2 linked regions of the Homo sapiens genome follow. The protein of the gene in region 2 interacts with the protein of the main gene of each other region in a biochemical or structural test. Each region holds a gene or a part of one and is shown on either strand. Other genes may lie near its edges.

The links.
Region 1: the proteins of NHERF2 (region 2) and PTH1R interact in a test that uses a peptide from one of them, tested with the Homo sapiens proteins (2 studies listed by BioGRID and IntAct, with this or other methods).

What each region holds. Positions count from the first base shown.
Region 1 is NC_000003.12:46,891,115-46,894,767, reverse strand, and holds part of PTH1R (parathyroid hormone/parathyroid hormone-related peptide receptor precursor), read right to left. Parts: intron 862-3,653; coding exon 759-861; intron 1-758.
Region 2 is NC_000016.10:2,036,793-2,039,570, forward strand, and holds the end of NHERF2 (Na(+)/H(+) exchange regulatory cofactor NHE-RF2), read left to right. Parts: coding exon 1-89; intron 90-162; coding exon 163-206; intron 207-745; coding exon 746-808; intron 809-964; coding exon of another isoform or gene 965-994; exon of another isoform or gene 995-1,033; coding exon 1,034-1,192; 3' UTR 1,193-2,234; downstream 2,235-2,778.

The DNA of each region.
Region 1 (3,653 bases), on a different chromosome or scaffold from region 2:
GGGTCTGTGGCAATGATGGGAAGCTGAGTCCAAGCAGCCTGGACTGGGATGAGAATGACTGTGCTCATTTTCCTGCCTCCACCCTCGGGCCTCAGTGTGGGGATGTGGGTAGCAGGGTGGGGTACAGTAGGAAGCGAGAGGCTCCATGGTGGATGATGAGGGGCAAAGAGAGGCTCCTCCAGGCTTTCACAATTAAGAAGAGGGGCTGGGTTCAGGACCCAGAATGAGGGGGCCCATCTGACCCCCCAGATCTCGATGTGACTGGGAGCCACTGTTGGGGCTGGCATCGGTGGGGCTGTGACTGCAGAGACCATGTGAGTCTCTGTGAGTGTGAGCAAAATCTGTGTGCCACAGAGTGTGTTTGTCATTGTGTGCTTGTGTTCTGGGCGATCACCAGCCTCAACCCCTGCAGAACCCTAAGGGCTTGTCAGGGGAGGAAGCGGCTCCTCTCCTTCAGTCAGTTGGGGTCTGGGCCTCTTCAGTTGATGAGATTAACCCGACAGCTATCAGTCTGAGTGCTGGTTGTGGGCAACACAGGGACCTGAGCTCGAGACTTAGGACAAGCCATGGATGCCCGAGCCTGCTGACTCCACTCTTGCACCACGCACCCCACTTTGGTTCTCACTTTGGCCTGGCCCCCTTTACCTAAGTCCGCCCCCACAGAGAGCCTTCACCTGGCTCTGTATCCTGGGTCCCGCCCTTGACTGGCCCCTCCCTCACCTGACCTCATCCCCAGACCCTCTTCCTTTGACCCCCACCTGGCCTCTGCAGGACCTCCTTGAGCCGTTTTTCGCACTGGGCCTGAGCACGGTGCAGCAGGAAGATCTGTTCCTCTTTAGTCATGACGTCATCTGCATCCACCTGCCAAGCCGAAGGTCAGACCACAGGCAGGACTTTCCGGCGCAGCAGCAGGTCCCAGAGACATCCCAATTTCCCAGAGGGACTACCCCCTTTCAAAAGGCCCTGACTCTAGAGGGAAGGTGGGATTTCCCCTGCATGTGGGGAATCTGCTCTATGGAGCTCACACCTTACAGATGGGAAGCTGTGGCTCTGAGGGGTAGGGCCTGCCTGATCGAAGGGAAAAAGCAGGGGCTCTCTCCTGCCTGCCCGCCAGTAACCCTGTAGGCTGCAGTCACTGATATTCTCTGTCCAGTCCTTTCCCCAGGGGTACATGGGACTGGAATGGAATGTCCCAGGATGGATCCACACAGGATCCTGGCTGCCTGCTGGGGACATGAGTCGGGGGCAGGGGGTGGATAAGGAGTGGTGAACTGTGGGGAGACAAACCCAGCCTGGAGTCCTTCAAGTCCTGGCACCCTGGGGGGTCTTGGGAGTCACCAGTTTCCATCTTGGCCCAGCTCCCCAGTCAATGCTGTCCCCAGTGAACGGTGAGTGCCTCAATGCCTCCCCTCCTTACAATCCCAAGAGAGAGAAAGAGAGGATGGAGGAACTGTTGGCATGCGGCCTGGGTTGGGCTGGGCACTCTGGTGCTGGCTGGGGGTGGGAGTCCCTCTCATTCCACTGCTTATCTGGGAGCTCCCTCCATCCAGACTCGGAGTTCTGATGACACTCAGGCCCTCACTCCTGCTGTTCTCTGCCTGGAATGTCCTTTCCCTTCCCTCCAACCTGCACACCCTGGGCCCTGGCTGCCACCCACCGGGACTCACTGGCCTCATTATAAGAAAGGAAATGAAATATCATGCGGGTGGAGGCTCACCCAGAGCAGGTGGCTGCTGAGGGGTCTCAGCCTCTGTCCTCTGACTTGGGAGCAGCCTGGTGTGCCTAGCCCAGCCATTCCCGTGAATGTGACCCGCAGAGGTTAAGGCGGTCTCTGAAACCTCCCCAGGGCGGGGCTGTGAAGCCCTCAGCCCCATCCCTCTTAATTCAGGGTCGTGTTTCCTCAGACCCCTGGGCAGGGGTATGTCCCCTGAGACGACCCCCTCCATCCCTACCCCAGAAGGCTACGTCTCCTCAGCTCCGCGGCAGAGCTGCATCCTTCAGACGCGCCAAGGCGGGGCCGGGGCCCTGCAGTCCGAGCATGGCTGTGAAGGGCGGGAGGACCCAGAGGAGGCAGGGGAGGAAGAAGGCGGGTCGGGCATGGGGCGGGCACCGGCGAGAGGGGCGGGCAGGCCGGGTCAGAGAGCCTGGCTGCAGGGAGAAGTTAATTGACCGCGTCTCTTGGCGGCAGCAGCGAGGGCTTCCAGGGCCAAGGAGTCTCCAATTGGCTCGGCCGGCCTTGGGTTCTGCTGGTTCCACTTAGCGGAGCCGCGTGCGCGTCCCTGTGCGTGCGCGCGCGAGTGGCAGCGCATTCTCGAGTGGCCGGCGCGTGCACTTGTGTGTGCCCGTCCGTGCGCGTTCTCACATGGAGACTGTCCAGCCTGTCAGTATGGGACGCGAGCCGGACGTGTTTGTGAGCATGCACGTGCACATGTATTTCTGGGCATAGGGCGGCGTGTGTGCGTCTGTGAGTGAGGCGGCAGCTCCTTAGCCTTTGCGTCTGTGGGTGGCCCGTGCTTCTGGTGTCTCTGGGGGCTGAGGTGGACCCTGAGATCTCCGCTGGTACTATGGACCCCAGGAAGGGCTGGAGCAGATCCTCACGTGCTGGCGGCTGGCCTAAGCTCCTCTATCCTAGTCTCTTTGCTTCCCCAGCTATGGCTGAGCTGGCTGGGGCAGAGGTAGACACAGAATGATGGGATGGCTTAAGGGAGGACAAGTTGGACTTGCCAGGATCCAGGGGCCTCCAAGACTAACCTGAAGCTCTCCCTGTGCCTCTGACATGGGGGATCCATGCTGGTGAGGGGGCTGATCCCTGTCCACCTCACTCCATTTACAGCACCCATTAACTACCATTTCCATCGTTGCTGCTAGTACCTCCATCAATAACCATCATTACTGTCACTAACACCAACACCAGCATCACCAGTCCCTCCCAGTACTACCACCACCACCACTGGCATCACCGTTACCACCATGAGCACTACTGTAACCATCCATATAACCACCATCACCACCATCTGCACCATCACAACTGGTACATCACCAGCACCAGCACCACTGCCACCACCTCCAGCATCACCAAGGCAACATTAGCACCATCAGCAATACTGCCACCTGCCCAACAACTACCATCTACACTGCCTTTGCCATCTTGTTGTCTTACCCCCTCCCCACTATCCTTCTTCTTCTGCCACCTCCACCCCTCTCAAGACAAACCCATTGTGCTGTATTTTCTCCAGCTGATGGAGAGCTCTGGAGTGACTGACGGAGGCTCCCACACATCCTTAGAGACTTGCTGACTCCCTGGGCCTCCCAACAGACAGACCAGCCTACTGATATGACTGGGGGTCACCCCTGATGGCCTAGACTGCAGGCAGGCAGTCATGGGTTGAAAACTGAGTGGCCATTGGGCAGCCTGACCACCGAAAGCTGACCAACACACCCCTCACTGGCTCAAGGAATTGGCTCAGCCTCTACCTCCAGCTGTTGGCTTCACCTTCTCCATGGCCAGGAGGAGGCACACCCCTTTTTCTGGAGTTGGGATGTTCAGGAGAGGGAAAGATATGTGCTTCCAGCACGCATGACTCCCACACTCCTTCATTCATCCATAGGGGTGGTGGCCCCACCTCTGGCCTCCCTGAACTTTAGGACCTATT
Region 2 (2,778 bases):
GGACGAGGCCCGGCTGCTGGTCGTGGACCCCGAGACAGATGAACACTTCAAGCGGCTTCGGGTCACACCCACCGAGGAGCACGTGGAAGGTGGGCCACGGCCCAGGGCACAGGGTGGGTGCGGTGTGGTGGCTGAGCAGCCACTGACACGCTGTCCCCACAGGTCCTCTGCCGTCACCCGTCACCAATGGAACCAGCCCTGCCCAGGTAAGAGGGTGGGGTGCCCATGAGACACAGGGTGCCTCTGGGGGTACCCAGGCCCGACAGAGGCCCCCTTCTCCCTGGAGATCCGTCCTCGAGGTGTGCTAGTGACACCCGATTTTAGCCCTGTCACCTCCCTTTAATGCCCCTGTGGGTCTCATCCTGGGTCGTGCCACACACAAGCCACGTGGGGCCCCTGGGGTCGGGGCCACTGCCTTCTGTCCTCTCCTGGGCACCACCTGGTAAGGAGTTGCCCTCCAGTCTCTGCCTCCTCAGGGAGCTGGCGGTGGCCTCACCCCAGGCGTTGCTCACGCCGGCCATTCCTGCACCTGAACCCCCTCTGCACCATGAGCCGGCCAGGCCACCTGCCTGTCACTGCCAGGCGCCCGGTGCCTGCCCCGCCGCATCTGGAGTCCACCAGAGGCCCGAGGCCCCCTGCCGAGTGGAGGAGCACACACTGGGGGGGGGTGTGCCTCTGTGCACATGTGTGCGTGTGCAGGTGTTGTGTGTGTCTGTGAAACCACAATCTGCCCTTGGTTTCCCAGCTCAATGGTGGCTCTGCGTGCTCGTCCCGAAGTGACCTGCCTGGTTCCGACAAGGACACTGAGGTATGGATGTTCTCCACTCCTGAGCTCACACGTGGGGTTGCTAGAGGCCTTGGGGTAGGCGTCTGTGGAGATGTCAGCCCGGGCAGTGGGGTCTCTGTTCAGGAAGTCCTCGTGAGCCCCAGCCCCAGCAGGCAGCCTCTGTTGGTTGCTCCCTAGGAGGGGCCACCGTCTGGGGTGTGGGACTAGGGCTCACTCCAGACACCCCACCCACCGTGCTCACCCCAGGATGGCAGTGCCTGGAAGCAAGATCCCTTCCAGGAGAGCGGCCTCCACCTGAGCCCCACGGCGGCCGAGGCCAAGGAGAAGGCTCGAGCCATGCGAGTCAACAAGCGCGCGCCACAGATGGACTGGAACAGGAAGCGTGAAATCTTCAGCAACTTCTGAGCCCCTTCCTGCCTGTCTCGGGACCCTGGGACCCCTCCCGCACGGACCTTGGGCCTCAGCCTGCCCCGAGCTCCCCCAGCCTCAGTGGACTGGAGGGTGGTCCTGCCATTGCCCAGAAATCAGCCCCAGCCCCGGTGAGCCCCCATCCTGCCCCTGCCCACCAGGTACTGGGGGCCTGTGGCAGCAAGATAGGGGGAGAGAGACCCAGAGATGTGAGAGAGAGTCAGAGACAGAGACAGAGAGAGAGAGAGAGAGACACAGAGAGAGACAGAGAGAGAGCGAGCGAGCGCGCGGCAGCCGCGGGGCGAGGGCCTTTGCTGCTCTGCCGGGGCCTGCTGACTGAAAGGAATTTGTGTTTTTGCTTTTTTTCCAAAAAGATCTCCAGCTCCACACATGTTTCCACTTAATACCAGAGACCCCCCCCCTTCCCCTCCCCCTTCCCCTCCCCCTTGGGACGCGCTCTAAATAATTGCAATAAAACAAACCTTTCTCTGCAAACCATTTCCTCCCCGCCCCCTCCCCTCAGCAGCGGCCGTCCTGAGTGGGAGTCCCTGGGACTTCCCAGTGGCCAAGTTGGGGCGCCCAGCCTCTTCGTGGGGACCTTGGGTAAGGCCAGGGAGGCCTGATGTGGCCGTAGGAGCTGCCCCTGCCCACCTGCCCTGGTGTGGGGGTCCCTAGGCCACACCCTGCTCCCCACCCAGCTACCCTGTGCGCCTGTGCCCTGCTGGGGGCCTGGGCTCTCCGAGGGGCCTGAGGATGGAGGCCCCACGTCCCCGAGGAGGGCGGCCTCTGGACAGGCCCCTCATTCCGCGCGGCAGCTCCCAGGCCTGGGGAACGTAGGTGTGTGAGAGCGGCACCCGGGAAGGACGCCTGGCCTCTGGCTCAGCCCTGCTTGGCGGGCTCCCCCGTGGACACCCTGTTGACTTTGCACTTCCCTCCCGGGCCCCGCACCCCCGAACCGACCACCGATCGACCGGCACCGCTGTTGCCTCGTAAGCCATAGCGCATGCGCGCTCTCAGGATAAACAGGCCCTGCCTGGGACCCACACGCCTCTGTCTTTTCTGAGCCTCCTCCCCGTGGGGTGAGAGGGGTGGAGGGATGAGGCTGTTTCAGGGAGCCCCCTCCCCGAGTCTCAGCAGCTGGAAACGGTCTCGTTCCTGAGCCCGTGCCCTGCATCCATCTGCTCCCAGCCCTGCTCCATCTCCCCCGCTGACCCCCATGGGACCCCCTGCTGTGTGGCACATCCTGGGCCCATGCCCATCTCTCTTATTTGGCAGACTCAGCCTCCCACCTTCACCTTCCCTGTGAAGCCATCCGGCCCCACACAACACCCACACGGGCCACCCTTTGCCCAATTCACCCTGCGACCTCTAGCAGTCACAGGTCAAGCTTTGTACCCTGTGGCGCCCTGCCTGGGTCCCCAGTGTCCCTTTCAAGGCCGGGTAGCTCTGTAAACAGGGGTGGGACCCTGGCAGAGGCTGGGCTTTGAGGGCATGAAAGTTCAGGAGCTGGCGGTGTCCGGGCTGGGAAGCTGGGGGGCCGGCGGTGGATAGCATGAGGGGCCAGGGTCCCCAGCCAGCTGCCC